4 linked regions of the Homo sapiens genome follow. The protein of the gene in region 2 purifies or fractionates together with the protein of the main gene of each other region. This does not show direct contact. Each region holds a gene or a part of one and is shown on either strand. Other genes may lie near its edges. The genes, in order: HERC1, RABGEF1, ZFTRAF1 and GAK.

Evidence for each region.
Region 1: the proteins of RABGEF1 (region 2) and HERC1 purify together in Homo sapiens (affinity purification with mass spectrometry; 2 studies listed by BioGRID and IntAct, with this or other methods). This does not show direct contact.
Region 3: the proteins of RABGEF1 (region 2) and ZFTRAF1 purify together in Homo sapiens (co-immunoprecipitation; 3 studies listed by BioGRID and IntAct, with this or other methods). This does not show direct contact.
Region 4: the proteins of RABGEF1 (region 2) and GAK purify together in Homo sapiens (affinity purification with mass spectrometry; 2 studies listed by BioGRID and IntAct, with this or other methods). This does not show direct contact.

Annotation. Positions count from the first base shown.
Region 1 is NC_000015.10:63,823,943-63,830,970, forward strand, and holds part of HERC1 (probable E3 ubiquitin-protein ligase HERC1), read right to left. Parts: intron 1-7,028. UniProt on the Homo sapiens protein: Involved in membrane trafficking via some guanine nucleotide exchange factor (GEF) activity and its ability to bind clathrin. Acts as a GEF for Arf and Rab, by exchanging bound GDP for free GTP.
Region 2 is NC_000007.14:66,806,730-66,811,989, forward strand, and holds the end of RABGEF1 (rab5 GDP/GTP exchange factor), read left to right. Parts: intron 1-1,108; coding exon of another isoform or gene 1,109-1,147; exon of another isoform or gene 1,148-2,156; coding exon 2,157-2,555; 3' UTR 2,556-4,735; downstream 4,736-5,260. UniProt on the Homo sapiens protein: Rab effector protein acting as linker between gamma-adaptin, RAB4A or RAB5A. Involved in endocytic membrane fusion and membrane trafficking of recycling endosomes. Stimulates nucleotide exchange on RAB5A. Can act as a ubiquitin ligase.
Region 3 is NC_000008.11:144,459,859-144,467,022, reverse strand, and holds the start of ZFTRAF1 (zinc finger TRAF-type-containing protein 1), read left to right. Parts: upstream 1-4,151; 5' UTR 4,152-4,368; coding exon 4,369-4,740; intron 4,741-7,164. Other genes in the region: kinesin-like protein KIFC2, read right to left, coding at 1-64, 185-263, 505-603; TMEM276 (transmembrane protein 276 precursor), read left to right, coding at 2,122-2,214, 2,411-2,896; TMEM276-ZFTRAF1 (uncharacterized protein LOC157542 isoform 1 precursor), read left to right, coding at 2,122-2,214, 2,411-2,563.
Region 4 is NC_000004.12:887,301-894,328, forward strand, and holds part of GAK (cyclin-G-associated kinase), read right to left. Parts: intron 6,710-7,028; coding exon 6,574-6,709; intron 6,190-6,573; coding exon 6,077-6,189; intron 3,323-6,076; coding exon 3,232-3,322; intron 1,671-3,231; coding exon 1,547-1,670; intron 1-1,546. UniProt on the Homo sapiens protein: Associates with cyclin G and CDK5. Seems to act as an auxilin homolog that is involved in the uncoating of clathrin-coated vesicles by Hsc70 in non-neuronal cells. Expression oscillates slightly during the cell cycle, peaking at G1.

The sequences.
Region 1 (7,028 bases), on a different chromosome or scaffold from region 2:
ACGCAATAGCAAAAAACAAAAATGAATAACCTGATTTTAAGACGGGCAAATGACTTGAATAGATATTTCTCCAAATAGGACATAAAAATGCCTCAACATCACTAATCATCAGGGAAACACAAATCAAAAAATCAAAACCACAATGAGGTATCACCTGACACCTGTGAGGATGGCAATTATCAAAGAGACAAGAGATAAGTGTTGATGAGGGAGTGGGGAAAAGGGAATATTTGAACACTGTTGGTGGAAATGTAAATTGGAACCGCCATTATGGAAAACAGTATGTAGGTTTCTCAAAAAATTAAAAAGGGCTGGGCGCAGTTGCTCACGCCTATAATCCCAGCACTTTGGGAGGCCGAGGTGGGCAGATCACAAGGTCAGGAGATGGAGACCATCCTGGCTAACACAGTGAAACCCCATCTCTACTAAAAATACAAAAAAATTAGCCGGGTGTGGTGGCAGGCACCTGTAGTCCCAGCTACTTAGGAGGCCAAGGCAGGAGAATCACTTGAACCCGGGAGGCAGAGGTTGCAGTGAGCTGAGATCATGCCACTGTACTCCAGCCTGGGCAACAGAGTGAGACTCCATCTCAAAAAAAAAAAAAAAATTAAAAAGAAAACCACCATATGATCCAGCAATCTCTCTTCTCGGTTTTAACCCAAAAGAAATAAAAGCAGCACCTCTGAGAGAGAGCTGCACTCCCATGTTCACTGCAGCATTATTCACACTAACTCAGATATGGAACCAACCTACACGTCTGTCAGTGGATGGCTCTATAAAGAAATTGTGATACAAACACACTCTGGAATAGTATTCAGCTTTCAAAAAGGAGATCCTGCCATTTACAACAAAACAAATGAAACTGGAGGACACTGTCTTAAGTGACACAAGTCAGACGTAGGAAAAAAAAAAAACACTAAATGATCTCTTCTATATGTGGAATCTTAAAAAAAAAAAAGTCAAATACATAGAAACAGAGACTAGAACAGTGGCTAGGAGAGTAGGGGAGATGCAGGTCAAGGGAACAAAGTTGCAGTTATGTAGGATGAATAAATCTAGAGATCTAAAATATAGCATGAGGGCTGGGCACGGTGGCTAATGCCTGTAATCAATCCCAGCACTGTGGGAGGCCGAGGCAGGGAGATCACTTGAGGCCGGGAGTTCGAGAGCAGTCTGGCCAACTTGGCAAAACCCCATCTCCTCAAAAATACAAAAAATTAGCCAGGTGTGGCAGCACACACCCAGCTACTCCAATGGCTAAGGCATGAGAATCACCTGAACCCAAGGTGGAGGTTACAGTGAACGCAGATCATGCCATTGCACCCCAGCCTAGGTGACAGAGCAAGACTCTGTCTCAAAAAATAAATAAAGTTAGCAAGAGCAATATAATTAATATTAGCATATTATATACCAGAAATTTTCTAAAAGTAGATTTTAAATGTTCCTAGCACATACAAAAAAAGTAACTATGTGAGATGATGGGTATCTTAAATTGCTTACATACAGCAATCATTTCACTATGTATATCAAAACATCATGTGTACACATTAAATTTATACAATAAATAAGTAAGTAAGCCTGAAATAAACAAATAAAATGAGAGAGAAGAGACTGGTGAACAATATGTTACCATCCTGTGACTTTTGTGGGCTTATTTTGTAATCAGTAAAATGAAGTATTATTTGAAGTTTTTATAGCAGCAAAGGTGATTGTACTTTAAGACTATCCCAGGCCTTTACTGGTTCCATTCACAATCAGCACTCAGCATCTATTTTCCTGGGAACATCAGTTCATTAGAAAACCACGAAAAAAAAGAAAAATAATAATTTTTTTTTTTTTGAGATGGAGTCTCGTTCTTGTCCCCCAGGCTGAGTATAGCGGTGGGTCTCAGCTCACTGCAACCTCCACCTCCTGGGTTCAAGTGATTCTCCTGCCTCAGCCTCCCGAGTAGCTGGGATTACAGGCACCCGCCACCATGCTCAGTTAATTTTTGTTTTTTTAGTAGAGACGGGGTTTCACCATGTTGGCCAGGCTGGTCTCAAACTCCTGACCTCAGGTGATCCACCCACCTCAGCCTCCCAAAGTGCTGGAACTAACAGGTGTGAGCCACCACGCCCGGCCAAATAATAATTTCTTAAAAAGAAAACGAATGGAATATAAACTCATCAAGTGCCAGAATCTTTGATTTTCAATTAATGTGTTCCAAGCACCTGGAGCAGCACTCTTTCTGGGAATGAACCTAAATTTCCAGTGTTGCTGGGCAGCACTTGTTACCCTAAAAGATGGGGATTTCTTCATGTTGTCTTGGTTTTTTGGCACCGCTAAAATCTAATAGGATTGCCCTAACCCAGAACTTTAAACTCGCGGTTTAATTTTCATTACGACTGCCCTTCTTCCTTATGGAACTATGACAGGTTCCAAGATACTGCCATTACTGGTCCAAATAACTACCATACCATGGGTATCAATACGTACTGTATATACCGTTCAAAATAACTATGTACAATGTGAACCAGTAACTACCATATCACATATTCTAGCCTAAGAAATATTCTTAGAATTTCAGTTATCCTCTGTTAAACCCCAAAAGTATTTTAGAGCACAGGTACTATGAATCAATGTAGCACTTCCATTAAATGCAAAATGTTAAAATGAACAATCCTGACTAGGCCAGAACTAATGGACTTTACCTGCACATAATAAGCTACATGTATGAATGCAGTATTAGTGGACAATGTATTTCATTTTCAAGCTATAAGAACCAACCATCTGCAAGCATTAAGCACTCATCCACAAGGGGTCACCCGAATGACTACTATTCTTTTAATCACTTATCTCTGGTAAAAAAAAAAAAAAAAAAAAAAAAAAAAAAATATATATATATATATATATATATATATAAAGTATGACAACGTATTCTGTTGGTGCTTTCACACATTACTGGTGAGAATGCAAATTGGTATACTTGTGGAGGAAAATCTGGAATTTGGGAATATCTAACAAAACTACATGTGCACTTAACTTTTGAACCAGCAATCACACTTACAGAAATCTACCTTGAAGATACGGTTCTAACGATACCAAAATACTACGCGCAAGGCTATTTACATAAGAAACAACCTAAATGCCCATACATAGATGAATGGTTGAAGAGGTTAAGAAACATCTACACAGTCAAGTCACAGCTGTAAAAAAGAATAGGCTGGGTGCAGTGGCTCACGCCTATAATCCCAACACTTTGGAAGGCCAGTGTGAGAGGATCACTTGAGCCCAGGAATTCGAGACCAGCCTGGGCAACATGACAAAACCCCATCTCAAAAAATCAACAAATTAGCCAGGTATAGCGGTGCACACTTGTAGTCCCAGCTACTTGGGTGGCTGATGAAGGAGGATCGCTTAAGCCCAGGGGATTAAGGCCACAGTTTGAGCCATGATTGTACCACTGCACTCCAGCCTGAGCAACAGAGTGAGACTGTGTCTTAAAAAAAAAAAAGACCGAAGAAAATGAAAGGAATATCTCTTCAAAAGAATGACCTGATTTGGAGTCATTTCCAGGATATACTATTGAGTGAAAAAAAGTGCAAAAGAGTATAGTATACTCTCCACATAAAAAAGAAGGGAACAGGAAAACAATCTGGCAGTTGCTCAAAAAGTTAAACATACAGTAATCATATGACCCAGCAATTCCACTCCTAGGTATATATACCCATGAGAATTAAAAATATATGTCCACACAAAAAATTGTACATGAATGTACAAAACAGCATTATTCATAACAGCTAAGAAGTAGAAAACCAAATGTACCTCAACTGACGCATGAACAAAATGTAGTATATTCACATAACGGAATAACATTCAGTTATCAAAAGGAATGAAGTACTGATACATGCTACAACATGGATGAACCTTGACAAAATTATGCTAAGTGAAAGAAGCCAGGCACAAAACGCCACATATTATATGATCCATTAACACAAAACATCCAGAATAGGCAAACACACACAGACAGAAAGTAGACTGGGAAGCGGACCTGGGAAGTGACTGCTAATGGATACACAGTTTCTTTTGGGGGTGATGAAAGTGTTCCGGAATTAGATAGTTGTGATGGTTGCACCATCTTGTGAATATACTAGAAACCACTGAATTGTACACTTTAAAAGGGTGAGTTGTATGGTATGTGAATTGTATGGCAATAAGTAACTGTATCAGAAGAAAAGGAATATAAGAGAACACCCACATATATTTTCATTTGTGTAACAGAAATAAAGGAAGGGACAAACCAGAAACTAAAGAGACTATGTACCCACAGGGCATGGGCAAGAGGTAGAAACAAAGATGGAGGGATGGAAATGAGATAGTAAAAACAAGGAGAGAGTGACACTTTTCAGTACAACTTTTTTCCTTTTTTTTTTTTAAGACAAAGTTTTGCTCTTGTTGCCCAGGCTGCAGTGCAATGGCGTGATCTTGGCATACCGCAACCTCCGCCTCCCAGGTTCAAGTGATTCTCCTGCCTCAGACTCTTGGGTAGCTGGGATTACAGGCAAGCGCCACCACACCAAGCTAATTTTGTATTTTTAGTAGAGATGGGGTTTCTCCATGTTGGCCAGGCTGGTCTCAAACTCCCAACCTCAGGTGATCCGCCCTCCTCGGCCTCCCAAAGTGCTGGGATTACAGGCATGAGCCACCGCACCCAGCCCAGTACACCTTTTTATACAGTAGTGTTTAGTAGAAGCAGTGTTTAGTAACTATAATGTTTCATATGCCAAAAAATAATAATAATTAAAATCAACTAGGGTTGGAGGGAACCCAAAATGGAACAGTAACAATAACAAATGAACTTAATGCATTAGGGATGAATAAGATTAAACTAAAGGGAGTGGTAAAGAAAATAACTAACCTAAGTAACTTTGGAAAACTATTTTGACTAGATACTATAAGGCTAAAGCAAAAATAACTACATACAAATACACTAATTAGTAAATACATTTTTCACTAGGGTACAGGTTAGCAATCTGTAACCACTTCATGTGTATTCTAGAAGTCAACAAATAAGTGAGTATACTTACTCTATATCATGAAAGCCAGGTTTCTGACAGAGACAGAAGGAACGGGAGAAGGTTAGAATGAACTTTGTGGTACTGGATTAGAATAGGTGTCAATATGAACCCATGGTTTTAAATATATATAGAATACAGGCAGGGTACTGTGGCTCACGCATGGAATCCCAACACTCTGAGAGGCCAAGGTGGGAGAATAACTTGAGCTCAGGAGCTCAAGGCCAACCTGGGCAAAACAGCAGGACCTCGTCTCTACTAAAAATTAAAAAAAAATCAGCGGGGCATGGTGGGTGCACATCTGTAGTCCCAGCTACTTGGGAGGCTGAGGTGGAAGGATGGCTTAAGCCCAGGAGTTCAAGGCTGCAGTAAGCTATGATCACGCCACGGCACTGCAGCCTGGGTGACAGAGTGAGGCCCTGTCTCAAAAAAGAAAGAAACGTCAGTATGTGTGTGTGTGTGTGCACATATATGTTTATATAAATATATATATATATATATATACACACACACACATATATAAATAATATGTGTGCACATATATGTATGTGTGTGTGTGTGTGTGTATATATATATATATATATATATATATATATATAATATACTGATATATTTCCTAGTTCTGCCAACTGAAGTCCTGGGAGCAATAAAACTCCAATAAACATACCGAGTATACAGATTTTGATTTTAAATACTATTCTCCAATAAAAGAAACCAGAGCTCCTTGGAGAAGTAGTCGACTCCAGGACTGGTGCAAGGAAAAATAAGATGAGCATGGAACAGCCTGTGGCCCCAGAATATAAGAAAGTGCTTGAAAAAGGGTAGAGGCCAACCTGAAAGAGCTTCCAATGGCCAAAGCTGGAACAATTTGAACAACAAAATAAATAATGATAGTATTGGATTATAATCCATAGAAAATAGAGATCCCATAAGAACACACTAATATAAACAAATAATTGAATAAATAAGTGAGGGAAAGGGGACATCTCTCCCTTAAAGAATTCCAATTAATAAATGCAGAAGGAATGAGGGAAATACAAAATCATGATTAGCCAAACACCACAGTAATAACTGTTGCAGACAAGATCTACCAATGGATGTTAAAAATCAATGGGAGAAAGTTTGAGGAGAAACTGTACATCCACAGTCTCAAAGTGTCTCCCCCAAGATATGTATGAACAATAAAGGGAAGAATAGTAACTTTACTGTGAAGAATACCGCTAAGGGTTCAAAGTTAAAATACCACTAGCAAAAAGACATGTCAACACCATGTACCCCCAATATGATGCATTGAGAAGGACACAACATCGCTTCTGTAGTTTTCTTGCAAAACATGCTTAACCTCAATCAAATCATGAGAAAAAACATCAGACAAACCCAAAATGAAAGAAGTTCTAAAAAATAACAGTACTCATCAAAAATGTCAAGGTCGTGAAAAACAAAAACTGAGGAACTGTCAGAGATTGGAGGAAATGAAGAAGACACAACAACTAAATGCAACGTGGGAACCTAGATTAGACCCTAGAACAAAAAAAAAGGCATTAATGGGGAAAAACCAGTGAAATTAAGTAAAATCTATAGTCAATAGAGTTACACCAATGCTAACTTCTGGTTTTGATCACTGTATTATGGTTATGTAAGTTGTTAACATTAGGGGGAGCTTGGTGAAGAGTATGTAAGAACTCTGTACTCTCTCTGTAACTTTTCTGTAAGTCTAACATTATTTCTAAATAAATCATTAAAAATAAATAAAATCCATCAACCAATCATCTGATACAACTGTCATATCTTCTTGCTCAAGGATCTCATCTGAAATTTAACAGTCCCATTAATTTAGAGAGCCCGGTAGGCAACATCAGAACAAACTAAAATCATGAAAATCGGATCTGGCATCTAGTAAGTAAACAACTACTTTATGCTCTTTTTCACTTTTTGTAGTTAAAGAAAATGCTAGCAGATGTGACCTTCCTGGCT
Region 2 (5,260 bases):
GTCTCCTGGGTTCAAGTGATTCTCATGCCTTAGCCTCCCAAGTAGCTGGGATTACAGATGTGTGTCACCATGCCCGGCTAATGTTTGTATTTTTAGTAAAGACGGGGTTTCACCTTGTTGGCCAGGCTGGTCTCGAACTCCTGACCTCAAGCAATCCACCCACCTCAGTTTCCCACAGTGTTGGGATTACAGGCATGAGCCACCGCACCTGGCCTCATATTTCTTAATATAAATGAAACATACACTTGCCTACGAGGGAAGAGCGTTTTGGATTCAGTTCTTTATCCAAAGCGAGTCAGACAACCTGGAAGTCCCTGAGAAGTGTGAAGGTGGAGACATGGCAGGTATTGAGAGAAGTGGAGGAGGACCAGGACGTGTTTGAGCGTAGCCACGGTCACTGACAGTAGAGGTGGCTGGCTTGCACACACTTAGCAGCTTCTAGTGCCCTTGGCCTGCAGCCTTAAGTACATTTGTGCCTTCTCTCTTTGTCCTCTTCTTGCCTGACTCAGAGTCTGTCTCCTACACCCATTGCTCCAATGAAACTGCTCTGGCAAAAGTAAAAAGTTTCCAGCTGACGAACCCCACGGGCACTCACAGTCTTCATCTTCCTTCGCTTCTCATAGCACTCTCCAAGAGTCCTTTGTTCTGCAACTTCTGTTGTTCCTTGGCTTCCACAATTCCACTACTTCCTTGTCTCTTTGTAAAGTCTGTGTCTTCTACTTCCACCTTGAATTGTGTCATTCCATGGGACTCCATTGTCTCTGCATCTCTCTTCCTGCACCATCTTCTCTGTCACAGAGCTGTCACTCACTGTGCAGTGATGGCCTGCAGCTCTGGGTCACCTGTCTTGACCTTACACTTGTATTGCACCTCAAATATAATTTGTTCAGAGCTACTTCCCCTTCAGATGTTTGTTTCTTTTCCAGTATTCTCTATTCCTTTTAGTGGCAATGCCATGTCTCCATTCACCTAAGTGAGGAGTTAGAATCACCTCCTCTTTCCAGGTCACAGAGGGGCCACAGCAACTCCACACACACCATGAGCCAGATGGTGTTCCGTTCTACTCAGATGAATCAGATTTTTCTTTTTCTTTATTCCTTTTTTCTAGAGATGGTTTCTACCCCGACTGTTTCCCAGGCTGGTCTGAACTCCTGGTCTCAAGCAATCCTCCCACCTCGGCCTCCCAAAGTGCTAGGATTACAAGCACGAGCCAACACGCCTGGCTCAGATGTCTGTTGAATTGGGCATTTGCAGTGCCATGTCTGTACTAATAATTGCTACCGTGTATTCATTGCTCGCTGCAGGCCTCTCGGAAGCACGTGACATGTTATGTTGTTTAATTCTCACAATAAATCTAGGTGGTATTTCCCCCCATTTACAGGTACAGAAACCTCAGAGAGCTTAAGTAACTTTCCCACGGTCACTCACTGTTGTTGTTAAGTGAAAGAGGTGACAGTGAACTCAGGTTCAGTCACTTCAGAGTTGTTCCTTTTTTTTTTTTTTCCTGAGACAGTCTTGCTCTGTCACCCAGGCTGGAGTGCAGTGGCGTGATCTTGGCTCACTGCAACCTCCGCCTCCCAGGTTCAAGCAATTCTCCTGCCTCAGTCTCCCAGGTAGCGGGGATTACAGGCGCCCACAACTGCGCCCAGCTAATTTTTGTATTTTTAGTAGAGATGGGGTTTCACCATGTTGGCCAGGCTGGTCTCAAACTCCTGACCTCATGATCCACACGTCCCAGCCTCCCAAAGTGCTGGGATTACAGGCTTGAGGCACCGGGCCCGGTCTGGAGCTGTTCTTTTAACCACTTGATGTTAAAATATTCATTTGAGGATCAGAGGTCTGTGTGCCACACCTACTTGGGGACTATATCCTGGGTGGGGATAGCAGGTCTGGGAAGACTCAGACAGAATGGCTTCATGGTGCACCTGGGGAGGCTGCACCCAGACATCGGCCCTGGAGCTCCTGGGAGTGTATAGGAAGCACGACCGGGGATAGGAGTAGGTAATTTTTGAGGCTGAAATACACAGAAGTTCATGAGTTTGTTTTGTTTACTTTAGCTTCTGTTTTAAATGGTCTGTGATCAAAAGATTTTTACAAATCGACTCGAGTATGCATAGCTTTCCTAATATGACTGTATTAACGTCCTCTTCTTGTAGTGCTGTGCTGTGGCTTTCATTGAGAAGCTAGACGCCCAGTCTTTGAATCTAAGTCAGGAGGATTTTGATCGCTACATGTCTGGCCAGACCTCTCCCAGGAAGCAAGAAGCTGAGAGTTGGTCTCCTGATGCTTGCTTAGGCGTCAAGCAAATGTATAAGAACTTGGATCTCTTGTCTCAGTTGAATGAACGACAAGAAAGGATCATGAATGAAGCCAAGAAACTGGAAAAAGACCTCATAGATTGGACAGATGGAATTGCAAGAGAAGTTCAAGACATCGTTGAGAAATACCCACTGGAAATTAAGCCTCCGAATCAACCGTTAGCAGCTATTGACTCTGAAAACGTTGAAAATGATAAACTTCCTCCACCACTGCAACCTCAAGTTTATGCAGGATGATCACAATTTAGTGGAGAGTATTTATTTGAGCCTAAATTGTAGGTAGCCCTTACTACACTCAACTGATTGGGATCTAGAATGTAACTAAATTGCTTATAAATGTCAGCATTTTTTAAAGGTACAGTATATGGGGATTGTTTCGTTTTTCCTAGCAGGGGAACCTTAGTTAATAATAAAATACTACTTATTTGAGTTACTGATACAGATTCATTTAAGGCTTGTGTGCAAATTTTGTCTCAATCTTTTTTCCCTCCATGATTTTCCTATGTGCTTCCTCTGGCATTCACTGTGGTTTTGGTAAATAATTGCCTTTTAAAGGATTAAACAAATGAATGCTACAAAGTGTATGTTCAAGAAAATTAAATGGTACCACTCTTCCACAGTTTGGAATAATTTTATAATTGTAAAGATAGAAATTATATTGATAAGTAAATATGTAAAATTGTAAATATGTAAAAAAAAGAATGGTGTCTGCTGTGCATGGCATTTTATATGTTAATTTTTTAGTTTAAAATGAAGTATATTGAATGTTTGCCTTTAGCACCATTTTATTTGGTTTGTCCCACTAAAATGACTCGAGAAGTGTTTAGACAAACTCCCCTTAAGATGTGCACTCCATCTTTAAGAACGTGTTAGCCTTAACTTTGAGGTTCTATATAGTCAGAGACTATGACACCACTAAGGTTCAGAATAAAGTTTAGGCCACATAAAATTGCTGTTTAATGTAGTCGATGGAAGACTTTAAACTATGCTTCTAGCTTATTTTTCCCTCATTCATTCAGCAAATCTCTATTGAGTTCTTCAGTGAGAAGGAGCAGGCACTGGGCCTGGAATGGAAGGCGGGAATGAATGGGCCTCTGATGGTGAGAGGTGACGGGGTCCCTCAGCTGTGAGATGCAAGGGGCGCCTTGCAGCCTCCATAATATACATTTGACTTTGCAAACGTCTAGACATGTTTTCTGAACCTTTTTCAGGACATTTCAACCTCGGGACTATTCATATTAGTGGCCTGAGAGGTGTTTGTTGTGGGGCCACCCTGTGCATGGTAGAATGTTCAGCAGCATTCCTGCCATCCATATCCATTAGGTGCCAGTAGCACCCCCGCTAGAGCTGTGAAAAATTCTCTCCAGACATAGTCAGATGTCTCCTGGGGCCATATCACCCCTCCGTTAAGAACCACTGATGTCTTTTACAAACCAGGAGTTATCCTCCTGGTGGTTAATATGGTGTAACCAAAGAATCTTGCACTCAATGCACAGTGTGATGTTAACTAAAACGAGTTAAATATTTAGGAGGCTTGACAGCTACCTGCATTGTAGAACCTTTTCTTATCTCAGTGGAACCTTCTATAACCTAAATATACCATTGATGATTCTTCTTCCATTCAGTGACATCCACAGATTATGCAGCTATACTTGTGAAATCGTGCATGAGGCCCCAGGGCACCGTTCTAGAACAACGTCACTTCACACAGGCAGCTGAGAAAGGTTCTCTTGCTTTTCCAGTATCTTCCTAAGGATGGAGCCCAAAATTGCAGAGCAGTAACTTTGGAATAAAACCAGGGTGGGTATAAAACTTCTTATTCTTAAATTTACATATAAGATCTATTAAGCTTGACACATCTGTGTCATCACGCACTGAAGACAGGAAGCAGTTCACTGAGTCAGCTGGTTCCCAAGCTCGCACAGAAGGTGATAAGTTACTATCAAATGCCAGTGAGAATCTTCTTATAGAATAACCTGGGCCCAAGTGATTTTAGTACAAAACTTGCCCTTCTTTGGTTTAATTTTCTATGTGCTTTTAGGTGTGAATCCAGATATGCGGTCTTAATTCCTTTGGAAATACACAGTTCGTTTAGTTACTGTACACTCTGTTTGTTCAATAAACTGCATATCAACTTCCCACAAAAGCTGACTTTTTTGGGTCTCTTACATATAAAGTAGGTTATTGAGTTGATTTTTTTGGAGGTATCTCATATTGGTCGAATTCTTCTGGTATGGACTCTTGCCTTATATAGAGGCTTCTATTTCTCTTAAGTCAGCATCAATACAACGGCCGGAGTTTCTGTTTTTGCAATAAGAAGATGTTGGTATTTTATGTAGGGTAAATGTGACTGGAATACACCTTTGGAACGGAATTCTTTATCAATAAAGTTTCACAATCCGTCCCTCTTCCAAAAATTGATTTGGTTCTTTCTTAGGAAAATATACATTATTATTAATATTCTCATGCTACAGAGGTTTTCTGGTTAAGCTATACCTAAAAATGAAACATTAGAGACATTTGTCAGTTAAAATTAAGAAGACAAGAATATTTGCTGTCACCACAATCAATCAACCTTGTTCTTGCAGTTCTACCAAGGTACTCAGTCTTCAAACAGACATAAAAGTAGAGAAAAAAGGAGTTAATGTAATCAATATAGAGCTATTATTGTCTGTTGGTGAGGACATGAACTCTGAAGCTGGAAGGCTTGGATTTGGTTTTGAATTTTATTCTGCTACTTATTAGCTCATTGGCCCTGAACAAATCTCTTGTTTCAGATCCCTCAGCTGTGAAATGGGGTTAATAATATTACTGCTTCATGGGGTTGTTGTCTGAACTTAGAACAAATGATAGCTATTATTTGTAGATGGTTATTTTATGTAGAAAACCCAAGAGAAGGCTGGGTGTTGTGGCTCACGCCTGTAATCGCTTTTGGAGGCAAG
Region 3 (7,164 bases), on a different chromosome or scaffold from region 2:
AGGGACACCGCGGCCGCGCGGCCCTCGGCTGCGCCTTCCGACCCATCCTCAGGCTCGGAGCTGGCTGCCGGTCAGGGAGGAGGGCGGGAGACATTTCGGGTCACGTGCTTGAGCCAGGCCTCCGCCCCTCCCTGGGAGGTCCCGGCACCGCCCTCGCACCGCGGGACTCCCAGCCCGCACCTACCGGCCAGGCCGGTCAGCTCGGTCCACAGCTCTGGCGCGGGCAGGTCTGGGCGCCGGCGACCCCGGGGCTTGCGGGCTCTCTAGGGAGGGGGCAGGGGCGCCCCTGAGGAGGGGGGCAGGCAGCCTGCTGGCCCCTTCCCTCCGCGAACCGGGCCGGAGGATTGGGGCCGAAGTCTACGCTTCCAGCATCGGGGCCGAGCCGAGGGTCCTCGGCACGGCCCCGTCGCCCCGCGCCCCGTGCCCGCCCCCGCCCCGGGAACCTCGGCGTGGGGGTGGGGCAGGCGGCGGGAGACGACGGGCTGCACGGCCAGCCCCGCTCACCTGGGCGGGGTCCCCGGGCTCCGCGGCCGCCGCGGCGCCACCATCCCTGCGGAAGAGGCTGTAGAAGATGTAGATGAGCAACGAGTAAAAGGCGTACATGGGAGCGCGGGGCGGCAGAGGGCCCCGCTTCGCGCCGCCCCGCGTCCCCGCGCCCAGACTCGGCGCCCGCCCGCCGCAGTGCCGGTGCGCATGCTCGCGACGGCCGCCCCCACGGCCCGGCTCCCACGGCTGGAAGGCGAGCGCGGGGACGGGGGTACTAGAAACAGGTGCCCGCGGCCGCACCTGGAGACCCGCCGTTTCTCACGGCGCCGCCCGGCGCGCCCCAACCCCTACACCGCGGACACCGGGCTGAGAGCGCCCACGGCTCCCGCGACCCTCCTCTCGGAATCCCTCCCACCCTCCGCGTAGTCCCCCACCGCTCCGGTTTCGCGGAGCCTTCAACACGCCGGGGTTCTCCTTCCTCTCCCTACAGCCCCGCCCATCTCAGCCCCGCCCATCTCAGCCCCGCCCAGACCCCCCCTCCTCGCAGCCCCGCCCAAACCCCGTTCCTTGCAGCCTCGCCCAGGCTCCTCCCCTCTCGGTCCCTCTCAGTCTCGCCCAGACCCCTCTCCTCGCAGCCCCGCCCAGGCCCCGCCCCTCGCAGCCACGCCCAGACCCCCCCATCGCATCCTCGCCCAGGCCCCGCCCCACCCAGGCCCCCTCCCTCTCAGACCCGCCGCTCTCAGCCCCGCCTAAACCTTATCTCCCTCAGCCCCGCCCAGACCCCCCGCCCCTCGCAGCCCCGCCCAGACCCCGCCCCTCGCAGCCCCGCCCCGGCCCTTCTCCCCTCATCACGCTCCTTCCAAACCACTATGCCCACGCACGCACCCACCCAAACAGAGCGTTTTCTGGTCCCCGAGCTCCTCCCGACCCCACCCGCTCCTACGGCCTCCAACCGGCCCCCCCCAGGTCTCGACCCTCTCCCCCAGGCCTCGACCCTCCCCCCCCAGCCGCTCTAGCCCCGCCCGGCCGCTCTAGCCTCCGCTCCTCTCGCTGGTGGAGGTTCCCGACCGCGCTCGCTCCCGCAACTGGGGGCACGGCAGAGGAGGCAGGGCCGACGGCGGTGGGCGGTGCGTTGCGCAGGCTCGGGCCTCCCGCTCGCCGCTGCGTTGGGACCGCGCAGCCCGGTAACTGCGCACGGCTGGCCTCCCGGAGTCCTGCGCCGTCGCTCCTCCTGGACCCGGGTTCCCAGGACAACGCCTCCCGGAACGCAGGGAGCAGGCCGAGGCCGCCGCGTGGGCCTGCAGCGCCTCGCCGCTCTCTCTTCCCCAGGCCCGCACTCCCACTTGGGCTCCAGGGCCCCAGGGCTGACGTTCCCCCCAGCTTAGACCCTGAGTCGTTTTCCCCCGTTTCCCGGCTGAATTAGGTTCTTCTTCTCCACAGGTGTGTGCAGTGGCCTCAGGGATCCGGAAAGTCTAGGACTGAACTTCTCCTAACATCCAGTAATGGGGACCTGGAACCTGGGCTTACTAGAGTGCCGCGCGTAGGGCTCCAGGTCGCTGGCTTCTGCGCTTCCTTCCTCTCCAAAGTTGAGTATCTCCTATCTGTGTCCTCGTACATACTGCCGCCTGAGGTGCCATGGCCCCCAAGCCGGGGGCCGAGTGGAGCACAGCCCTGTCCCATCTGGTGCTGGGAGTGGTGTCTCTGCACGCAGCCGTGAGCACAGCCGAGGTGAGTACACTGGGGCTGAGCAGGGGCGCATCCCCATACCTCCCAAACCCCAAGGACCTAGTTTCCTGAATTAGAGAGAGGTTGGTGGGAAGTGCGTCTAAGACCAGGTCTCCATGGAAGCCCCAAACCCTTTCCTGTTTAAAAGGGTGACCCCGGCCTCTTTTTCCCACGTGTTCTCCCTTCCCTGTGTTGACAGGCAAGTCGAGGGGCTGCTGCTGGCTTCCTGCTCCAGGTCTTGGCTGCCACCACCACGCTGGCCCCAGGGCTGAGCACACACGAAGACTGCCTTGCTGGAGCCTGGGTGGCCACCGTCATCGGCCTTCCCCTTCTGGCCTTCGATTTCCACTGGGTGAATGGGGACCGCTCCTCTGCCAACCTGCTCCTGGGAGGAGGCATGGTGCTGGCAGTGGCTGGCGGCCACCTCGGCCCTGAGGGCCGCTCTGTGGCTGGTCAGGCAATGCTGTTGGTGGTCGCAGTGACCATCCTCATTGTAGCTGTCTTCACGGCCAACACTTATGGGATGTGGGGGGGGGCGATGCTGGGTGTGGCAGGCCTCCTGAGCCGGCTGGAGGAGGACAGGCTGCTGCTGCTACCGAAGGAGGATGTCTGTCGCTGGGCCTTGGCTGTAGGCAGCTGGGCTTACTGCCGGGCCCTGCATACACAGCGCCTCCAGTGGGAGTGACAGTTGGATACAGCCAGGCAGGGTTTCTGCCCTGCCGAACACTTTCCCTCCCACCTGCCTGCTCCTGGCGCCTTCTCCCTAGGGGTAGACTCTTCTGCCTACTGAAGTGGGTTTGCTGCACATTGACTGGTCAGGGGCAGAGTCTGGGTGCTGTCCTTTGGCCACGTGTGGGGACTTGTCTAGACCAGAATGAAAGGGACAGGGTCCCAGACACGTTTGGGGGTCCTGATTCTGGGCTGGACACGGTTGTGGATCCAGAGAAGAGGCCTAGTCTCCAATAAATCTTAGGAATTTTGCAGGAATATGAAAACTGCCCATTTTTGAGAGGGATTGAGGGATCTTTCAGTGAGCTTCCTAAGGCCCCTCAGGACAGTAGTCAGTTACCCTGACAGGGTATGTGCTGGAACTAGGATGGGGTCTCATGCAGCCCGGCCTCCTTTTGACTATTGTCAGGAAGACCCCTGGGCTGAGAAGACATAGCCCTGGGCCCTTACTCTCCAGGGACATGGTGGAGTTCCAGATATCCTGGCCTGGCCTGGCAGGTGGCCCTCTGGGGCAGTGACCTTCAAGAACTGAAGAGTAGGGTGGAGGCAGGGGAGGGCTGTACCACAGGCGTTTCGAGAAACGCACATCCTTCCCAGAGCTGATTCGCCCTCCTGTGTACCTCCGGCCTGTGGAAGCCAGCCCTATTCCCTAATACCTTCGTTTTCCTCAGTGGACCCCTTCAGTCTCCAACCCCAGGGTTAGAGGGGGTTCGGACGAGCAGAGGATTAGATTCCGGTGGGTTAGGGGTCTGGAGTCCCCTCTCCTGGAAGTCTCTCCGCTTGCTCCTGTGGAGACCTAAGGGGTCCCGCACCCGACAGAGAGGGGTGGCCGGCGGGATTTTTCACTTGTGTCCTTCCCCTGCGGGGAAGGGGGCGAGAGCCCCTAACACAAGCCTGAGTCTTGGGGGACAGAGACACAGGCACACCCCGCCGTAGGGGTCGGCGGCCGCCACTGGCTCGTGGAGCGTGGGTGCCGCGCCGGCGCCACAGCTCGCGTGGGCCTCCCTGCCCCCAGGTGCGAGTCCCTCCGCGACTCTCGCAGGCCGCGCCCCCTCCCCGCCCACCTTCTGCAGGGGCGGGCCTTCGGGGGCCCTCGCTCTCCCATTGGCTCTAGTCCCTGCGCTTTCTTGCCCCAAGCGGCGCTCCCATTGGCCCCGCGTGGGGCTCACGTGACGGGGAAGACGAGGGGGTGGTGGCGGCGGGGCGGGGGGAAGCGCACAGCGAAAACAAAGATGGCGGCCGTGCCGGGGTCGGTGGCCGCGGCGGCTGTGGGGCTACGCGCGGGCCGGGCCCACTGAGGCGGCGGCGCAGGGAGCGGGGCTGCGGGTTCGCGGCGGCGGCGGCAGGAGAGCGGCGGGAGCGCGCGGCGCCCCTAACTTCTAGTCGGGGGAGCGCGCCGGCATCCGCCCGCCGGGCCGGCCGGCCGCTATGTCCGGCGCCGAGGAGGCCGGCGGGGGCGGCCCGGCCGCGGGGCCCGCGGGCTCCGTGCCGGCCGGGGTCGGGGTCGGGGTCGGAGCCGGGCCCGGGGCGGCCGCCGGGCAGGCGGCGGCGGCGGCTCTGGGCGAGGCGGCGGGGCCTGGGCTCCCGGACGAGGCGGGCTTGGCGGGCGCCCGGCAGCTACAGCTGCAGGAGGCGGCCGGCGACCCCGACGCGCCGCCCAAGAAGCGGCTGCGGGCAGCCGAGGCGGCCGAGGCGGCGGCGGCGGCGGCGGCGGCCGGCAGCGGGAAACTGGAGGAGCGGCTCTACTCGGTGCTGTGCTGCACCGTGTGCCTGGACCTGCCCAAGGCCTCCGTGTACCAGGTAGGGCCGCCGGCCGACCCCGACCCGGCCCAGCCCGGGGCTGCAGCCCCCGCCGCGGGGCCCCAGGATCCGCGTCTCCTCGGAGGCCAGGCCTGCGGGGCCCGGCGGCCGGGAACCCTCTCTGGCCCTTACAGCCACTTCCTCGCCCAGCGGGGCTCCAGCGGCTGCTCCGAAGCTCCTCGTTGTCTTTCTCTCAGGGCTTTATTTTCCGCTCGGGACCCCCCTTTTCTGTTTTCTGATCCACGGTACTTCCCGATCTGAATCGCTTGTCTTCCGCTTACCTCTCCCTTCTTTTTTCTAGACTTCCCCACGGTCCCCTGAACACTCTCCCAACCCACAGCCTCAAACTGATCCTTAGCCCGCAACTGCTCCCCGCAACCCACCCGGTCCCAAGCTCCCTGGGCTCAGAGTCCTGTGCTCGAGAGCTCCTTCCCCATTCTTCCGGCAGCCACACCCCCGAGTTTGTCCCTCCACTCCTGAACATCCTATGGACGCCTCCTTTTCTACCCTCCTGGGTGGAAGAATCCTTTCTCTTGGTCCATTTCCAGTTCATCCTGAAGAACAGTAAGGAGAGGGGATTGCTGTTTGTCGGGATGAACCATTTGCAACAAGCCCCACAGTTTGGGTACCTTCTCCAGTCCCAGCCAAACCCCACATCCAACTGGACTTGCCATGCCCCACGCTAGGCTCCTGCCCACCTCACCCAGGCCAGGCCAGGCTTCCTAGGCAGCCAGTGCTCCAGGAGCCGGCCCACCCCTCCTCCCCCATCTTCACATCCGCATGGCAGTGGGACTCAGCCCTTAAGCAGCCTAGGGCTGTTAGGGTACCTGGCCCAGGTGGGTTTGACATGCCCTTTCCCAGGTAGCAGCAGGGACAAACTGGTTGACACCCAGAGGCAGAGTACAGTGTCCCCACCTTCCCTGTGTCTTTCCCTCTCTTTCAACTCCCCAGTCCCTGTGAGAAATGAAGCAGGTTCTCTGTCAGCTTTCTTTACACTTACAGGAGCTGGAAGTAGCTAATGGGGCCTTGTTTCCCTGCTTGTGTTTGAATTGGGGGCCTGGATGAGGAGCTACTTTTGTAGCAGGTGGTGTAGGGCTAGTCTAGGTTGCCATTTCTCCAAACTCTGGATCTCCAAGTCCTTCTTGCTGTGGCATGACCTTGTCGGGAGGACCCCAGTGTGCCTGGGTGGGGAGAGGGCACTGGCTCTAACCCACCCTCCTGGGTGTCAGGCACCAGGGCCAGCTAGGGGAGCACTTTTCAGAGCCACTGGCTCCCAGAGTTAGCAGTTACTCCTTGGCTTTGGCAGTGCCTCAGCTTCCAAGATGTGCCCACTCTCCAGCTCCTTTTTCCTGGCTCACAACCTTCGATCCTCCCAGGCGGAAGAACTCTCCTTTTTTTTGAGACGGAGTCTCACTCTGTCACCCAGGCTGGAGTGAAGTGCCACGATCTCTGCTCACTGCAACCTCCGCCTCCCGAGTTCAAGCAATTCTCCCTACCTCAGCCTCCCGAGTAGCTGGGATTACAGGCGCCTGCCACCATGCCCGGCTGTTTTTGTATTTTTTAGTAGAGACGGGGTTTCGCCATGTTGGCCAGGCTGGTCTCGAACTCCTGACGTTGGGTGATCCGCCTGCCTCGGCCTTCTGAAGTGCTGAGATTACAGGCATGAGCCACTGCGCTTGGCCAGAACTTTTTCTTGGATCTCGAGGGAGACTCCAACAAGCCAAGCCAATGGTGTGAGGCCACGGGGGAACAGGGAAGTCTCCTTGTCTCCCCATTGGTGGGTGGGCTGGAGCTGTAGCTGGACCTGGTGGTGATGGGCCACATGGTACTGGTCCCTGGTGCACTGCATCCCCCATCTAGACTGGCCCGGCACAGAGTGATGGCTCTGCTTCTGACCGGAGCTCCTGGTGACCAGGCCTCTGAGCCTAGCTGGTTCAAACCGGCCTGCACTGTGCAGAGTGGAGTTCTGCTCTGGGCGGCCAGAGGCAGGGAGCTGAACAGGTGTAATGGAGACCGAAGGCGCTGGGGCTGCCCTGGCTGGTGGCCCTCCCTGGCCTGGGGGCTCTGTTCAGTGACTTCCCTGGGAACAGAGCAGCTGAGCGAGGAGTGCTGTGGGCACAGGCCTCCCTGAATGCTGCGAAGAACACCTCCGGCGGGTGGCTCTCGGCTGTGAGTGGTGCCCCTGGAAGGTCAACACAGACCTGGAGACCTGGGCTCTGGCCTGCTCTGCTCCCTGGAGAATCTGGGCACAGATGGTGTGGGCCCCCACATGCTGCCTTCTGCGTGTCCCTGGTTGGGCCCATGCTGGCCATCACCCCAGCTTGGGTTCAGTCTACCATATTCTACTAGCTTTCCTTGGTGACCACGTTGATTGGCTGTCTCGAGCCAGCCAGTGTCAGGAATGCAGCAGGTTCCACCCTCTGT
Region 4 (7,028 bases), on a different chromosome or scaffold from region 2:
CTCACACGTGTACACATGCACGCGGCTCATGCTCACTCACAGGCACTCCTACGCATGCATACATGTGCACACAGCTCAGGCACAGGCACTCGCGCGCATGTGCACACATGCATGCGGCTCACATGCACTCACAGGCACTCGCACACATGCATACACATGCACGCAGCTCACGCACACAGGCACTTGTGTGCATGCGTACACATGCATGTGGCTCACACACACTTGCATGCGTGTGTACACATGCACGCAGCTCACGCACACTCACAGGCACTCCTACTCATGCGTACACATGCACGCGGCTCATACAGGCACTCGCGCGCATGCGTACACATGCATGCAGTTCACGTGCACTCACAGGCACTCGCACACGTGTACACATGCACACAGCTCACGCGCACTCACAAGCACTCCTACACATGCATACACATGCACACACGCATACATGCTCCAACATGCACATGTGCTCATACACGTGCCTGCACACAATACGAGCACTCAGCTCACACAAGGATTCACAAGCACAAGGACTCACAAGCACCAGCACACATGCTCATACCAGCAATCACACACGCCTATGCACATACTCACACCAGCATTTACACACACATGCACACATGTTCACATATGTATGTTAACACACCCATTCCCTCACATGCACACATGCTCAAAGACACATGCACCCACGCTCACATGTGCAGACGCTGCGGTACATGCAGGCACAAGTGCACACACGTCTACCTGGTGCTGGGGACACAAAACAGTGATCACAGCACAGAACAAAAAACATAAGAAAAAGCCCGAAGGTGTCGCCAGCTGTGGAAGGAACGTGGGCCCACCAGGGGCCGCAGTTCCTGCATCACGGGCACCAGTCCAGCCCAGCTCCTAGGCTGTTTCCTGACATAGCCGACGCCCTTGAGCTGGTGCGACCGCAGGGCCAGATGAGCAGCCAGCGTGCTCCTGGGCGTTCAGCTCCTCAGAAGAGCCAGCGCATGGACCCCGCAACGCAGAGGGGCCGCACTCTGGAACATTCCCAGTGTTCCGTGAGCAGAGGCTGCCGGGCCTGTGGGCCGATGTCGGGGCCACCCCCGCACAGACGCGCCCTTGGACAGCCCACCCAGAGGGAGACTTTCTCCCACCACAGGCTGGGACTCACCTGGTCTAAGTCTGAGTAACTAGGGCTTTAACTCAAGGACTGGCTCAGTGAGGCGCCACCACCGAGGTTTCACCCAATTTACAGAGTCCCGGGAACAAGCCAGGAACGCCCCAGAGTGAGGGGCGACATTGCAGCAAGGGAGGGGAGGGCCCAGGCATCTCCTCAGCAGGGCCTTGCCCCCCAGGCGATGAAAGGAAAGGGATCTGCCTGGCTCTGTGGGATGCTGGGCTCATTCCGACTCCCTGGGAGAAGCGGGTGATGCTGTCCCACTGCCTCAGGGGCCCCTGTGGGGCCTGATGACCAGCTGTTCCACCGCAGCCAGGAAGCAAGGGCCGGGGCTGCAGCCTGGAACGAGCGTGCGGCAGGTCCAGGGCTCTGGAGCCTCACACTCACTTAGCGACGGACTGGATGACCTTGGAGGAGGTGTCCTTGAGGTTGGTGAAGAGCCGCTCTGTCCCACCCCGCAGAATGTCCAGGAAGCCGCCATACGGCTGGTCGTACTCCGCCAGCGCCAGGCCTGCAGGGAGACACAGTCTCAGCAGGCCCCAGGTGCTCGGTCCCACCTCCCCAGGTGCGGGTTGCTGGCTGGGCCCAGGCCCCAGGCGCTCGGTCCCACCTCCCCAGGCGCTCGGTCCCACCTCCCCAGGTGCAGGTTGCTGGCTGGGCCCAGGCAGCAGGAGCAGGGAGTGGGTGGTATGGCCAGGCCCCTGACCCACACGTACCCAGCGGGAAGCCAGGCCTCAGCACTGGCAGGTCTACCCTGTCCTCAGCCTTTCCAGAGACCCAGGAAATGGTCAATCTGGGTGCGGAAGGGCTATGTGGCCGCCTCAGCACAGCTGGGGCTGGGACTCTGTCTGTGGGGATAGTCCGGCCTCACGGCCACAGCTTCAGGCCACCATGACCCTGGACGTGAAGGCAGAGTGGTGGCCCCTGGCCTGGTGGGTCCTGCGAGTGAGGTCTTCACAGGCGGCTTTGGTGGCACAAGTGGTGTTAAAAAAAAAACACCTGGCCAAAGTCCCTCATGCAGACAGGAGACCGAGGCCCAGGCAGCACCGAGCAGATGGGGGCACTGCAGAACCCAGCAGCTCGAGGACTCACCCTTCCTCCAGCCAGCAGAGACCCAGCCAGCCACTACACCTGCATGTGTGGGACCCACACTGCACGGACCGGGGTGCCCCAGACATGGAGCTGAGCTCCTCCCTGGGAAGCGGAGGTGAAGGACCCAGGTGAAACCTCCCACACCGCAGTGGGGATGCGGGGCGAGGTCGGGAGGGGTCAGCGCCATGCAGAGCTGCAGACCCAGCCGCTGCCTGTCAGGGCCATGTCCTCGACGGCTCACCCGGAACCTTCTGGAACACTCCCGGCACGGAGTTCCAAGAGCATGCAGCGTCTGTCTCCAGGGCCCTCTCCACTCCTCACCAGCTGAGGGCCCTCCAGGGACACCCAGGCCCATCACAGGTGCCCACTCCTCATGCGGCAGAAGGGGCCACCTCACACTAGCGGCAGAACTGTCTTCCCCCACCGCCCTCCACTGTCCAATGCCTGCTCCTGCCCCCTGGCCTCAGGGTCGCTACTGTAGTAAATGGTTCACCTTGCCCACAGCAGGCCTGGCCCTTCATTCCCAGCTCCTGGGAAGGAACCTGGGATGCCCCCTCCAGCCCCAAAAGGGGTGTCTGTTTCCCTGGGGCCTTGGGCTGTGCCAGACACGACAATGTGATCTATGCTGGGGTCTTGGCCACGGCGCAGGCTGCCTCCCACATAACCCCTGAGCGAGGCCGCCTGGTCACTCGGGCCCGGTCTCCTGGGCCCTGCCCTGGAGCCTCTTCCCTTGGCTGGCTTTAGTCCGAATCCTGACCCCCTCCTGAACTGCACCAAGACACCAGCTTTGCTGAGCTCTGTGAGCCCCAGGGAACTGCCGAACCTGAGGGTGTGCTCAGGGACCCTGACCTCACAGTCATCTCTGGTGGGAGAGGAGGCCCCGGGAGAGAAGGACCCCAGACTCCATCCCAATGTGCTGCGGGTGCCCGGGGTGCAGCAGGAGCGAGGGACAGGTGGCGGGCACAGGACAGGGCACTCACCTCCACTGTAGCCACTGCCAGCGGGGCCCACGGGAGGGGGTGGCCCTCGGGACAGTGTGGCGCTCCCGTAGCCTCCATTCTGCTCCAGGAGCTGTGACAATGAAAATGCAGAGGTCAGTTCTCTAAACTGACAACTCACGCCTGCCCACGTCGGGCAGAGGTACGGTATGGGTGCCCTCAGAGCCCATCCTTCTGCCCCCTGATCTATGACACAGTGCAAGGGAGGAACTTCCCACAGGCTGAAGCATCAGCTGGAACTCAACAAACGCACGCAGCCCTCATCCCCTCACCCCGCGGCCTGCCTCGCTTGGGGCTGTTGCAGGTGCTCAGCACTCCAGCCCAGCTTTTCAGACTCTTGGGCTACAGCTTCTGTTCCTTTTCCTTTTCTCTCTCTTCCCAGTCTGTCCAACCAACATTTTTTTTTTTTTTTTTGGTAGAGACAGAGTCTTGCTCTGTGACCCAGGCTGCAGTGCTGGAGGGCTGTGGCACGATCTCAGCTCACCGCAACCTCCGCCTCATGAGTTCAAGCAATTCTCCTGCCTCAGCCTCCCAGAGTAGCTGGGACTACAGGCATGCGCCACCACGCCTGGCTAATTTGTTTTGTATTTTAGTAGAGATGGGGTTTCACCACGTTGCCCAGGCTGGTCTTGAACTCCTGAGCTGAGGCAATTCGCCTGCCTCGGCTTCCCAAAGTGCTAGGATTACAGGCGTGAGCCACTGCACCCAGGCTTTTTTTCTTTTTTTTTTTTTTGAAACGGAGTCTCACTCTGTCTCCCAGGCTGGAGTGCAGTGGCATGATCTGGGCTCACTGCAGCCTCCACCTCGCATGCCCAACCATATTAAGCAGACACATGGCCTGTCTGTCCCAGGATGTTCCATCACTTCAGCTCCTGGGTTCTGGGGGCCACCCTGTGAGGCTCACTACCTCCTGGGGGCAGTATTTTATTTCATTGTGAACTCAGCTCCATCATGGACTGTGTTTTCTGGGGGAGTCGGTTGGCTTAAGCAGGGGTCTAACGTCTGTCCCCACGGGGTCCCGGCCTAGAAGCACTCAGATGAGAAGCACTGAGGACCCCGCCCCATCACTAGGGGCCTGATTCTGCCCATCTGCCCAGCGGCACCTCCTCCCGCCCCATCAAGAATCCCTCCAGCGCACTCGACAAAGCAAGAGGCCCACACCCCCCTGCGAGCCCACTGTCCTCTGTGACCTCCGGGGGAGTGGGCAGGCATTTTCTGTAAAGAGCCACCAAGCGAGGGGGACACGAGGCCCAGGCTGCTAAAGAGCAGGACGGCCCAGGAGTGATCCCTTCCTGCCGCTCTCTGACAGCCCCAGGGAAGCTTGCTGAGAGGCCACCAGTGACATCAACTCTCCCGCCTCAGAGCGCCCCACACCTCAAAATGCTTCCAGCACCCAGCACCAGGGCTCCCTCTGCTGGTGCACCCACCATGATGGCCGCCAGAGAGGGGCACCACAGCCTCTCCCCGTCTGCACTGGGCTTCCCAGCACTTCCCTGCTCCCAGGTCTCTGTACCCACGCGGCCCCCAAGGAACTGCAAACCCTCCACACAGCCCAAACCTTCCTTGTCCCACAGGGTCCTGTCCTCAGACAGGGACTCCGGGCAGCAGCTCTGACCTTCTCCCCACGCTCCACACCCACCGCCTGGGTCAGCTCCACTGCAGTGGCCCCTGGAAGTTCCGGCTTCCAGCTACCAGGGAGTGGAAACGACCCAAGGGCTGAAAAGGGGACAAAATGCAGGAGCCAAGAGTCCTGGGTCCTTGGACACAGACCCCTGCGAGATCTGCAGAGGGGCCCTGCGTGTCCTGACTGGGCCCTGAGCTGGGATGCCCAGGGGCCTCCCTGCTCCCCGTGGGTGAGGGCCGGGCCGCGTGTCTGCTCTGCCTCGAGGATCTGGTGATGGAGATGCTGCACCCTGTCCACGGCTGGGTCAGAAAAGACTCTGAGGAAAGCATCTTCCAGCCAACACGTGCTGCTCCCTCCCAGGCCTCACACTTCCACAAAGCACACGGCCCTGTGGGCCTCAGTCTCCCAGCCCCCAGGCCCTGATGCTGCCAGCAGCCACCGGTGCCTGGGAGTGGACCCTGGCCAGGCCCAGCCCTGACACAACTGCAACCAGGACGCCCAGAGCTGAGCTGAGGGTCAGAAACACAGACGCAGAGCAACTCAGGACACCCCAGGACGCCCAGAGCTGAGGGCTGGCTGACCTGGCTTGGACACCAGACCCCAGAAACAAAGACACAGGAGCAATTCATGCTGTCCTGTCAGGGGAAGAATCTAGAAAGGCGCCTGCAAACCTCAAGGAGGCCAGAGGAGCGCGTGCAGAGTGCGAAGACCTTGGCAATGGTCCCAGCATGCCCCCGGGGTCTCGGCCCTGGGCTGCGGTGGTGACCCTGCTCCTGCAGGAGCCCAGGGCCCTCAAGAGCTTGTGGCTCCCCACTGAAGTGGGCAGAGACCCCCAGGGTGCAGGGTCCGGACGAAGCAGCACAGCCACATGCCACCCTCCTCTCTGTGGGGGGATTTGGGGCTCACATGTGCCTCCCTCCCCTCTGTGATAGGAAACTTGGGGTTCAGGTGTGCCTCCCGCCCCTCTGTGATAGGAGACTTGGGGTTCACATGTGCCTCCCTCCCCTCTGCGGGGGATCTGGGGCTCACGTGTGCCTCCCTCCCCTCTGTGATAGGAGACTTAGGGTTCACGTGTGCCTCCCTCCCTTCTGCAGGGGATCTGGGGCTCACATGTGCCTCCCTCCCCTCTGCGGGGGATCTGGGGCTCATGTGTGCCTCCTTCACCACTGCGGGGGATTTGGGGCTCACGTGTGCCTCCCTCACCTCTGTGATGGGAGACTTGGGGTTCACGTTGCGGGCGGCCGCGATCTCCTGCAGCTGGTGCACCACCTCGGCGATGGACAGCCGCTCCTCCGGGTTCACCTGCAGCATGGCGCCTGCAGCAGAAGCACAGCGCGCTCGGCCCCACGGTTCCCCAGGCGGGTCAGCACCCCCTGCACTGGCAGAGGTCACAGACCACCAGAGGCCACTCCCTCTACACACATCAGTGACGTCAGAAGCAAGAAGGGAGCGGCAAAGGGAAGAACAAAAACCGAACAAAATGATCAAAAATCACCACTCAGAGCACCGCAAATTCACCAGCGGGGTGGGCGGCAGGGGAGCTCTCTGGAAACCCCCCCCCCAGGGATGTTGTCAAAACTATGGTGACGGGCGGGAGTGGGGCCAGGTGAGCAGTGCCCCAAGGGGAGCGGGGTCTCCAGAGCCACGCGGGGTCTGTGCTCCAGGGTCCTGCCCCACGCACGCATTCCACCGGGACTTACGGATGAGGCTGTGGAAGACCGTGTACTGCGTGTCGTGCGGGGGGATCGAGTACTTCCCATTGACTATTCGAAGTTTCGCTCCATCCTCAAAAGGGTGCTGCCGGAAGCACAGCAGGTACAAGATGCAGCCCAGGGCCTGCGGGGAGAGCAGGGGTGATGCCTAGGCCCACGGGGAGCGCAGGGGTGACGCCTGGGCCTGCGGGGAGAGCAGGGGTGATGCCCAGGCCCACGGGGAATGCAGGGGTGACATCGGAGCCGTGGGGAGCGCAGGGGTGACACTGGGGACTGCAGGGAACACAGGGGTGATATCGGGAACATGGGAAATGCAGGGGTGACACCGGGGCCTGCGGGAACAACAGGGGTGACACCCGGGCCGCGGGGAGCGCAGGGGTGACGTTGGGGCCGTGGGGAGCGCAGGGGTGACGCCTGGGCCTGTGGGGAGTGCAGGGGTGACA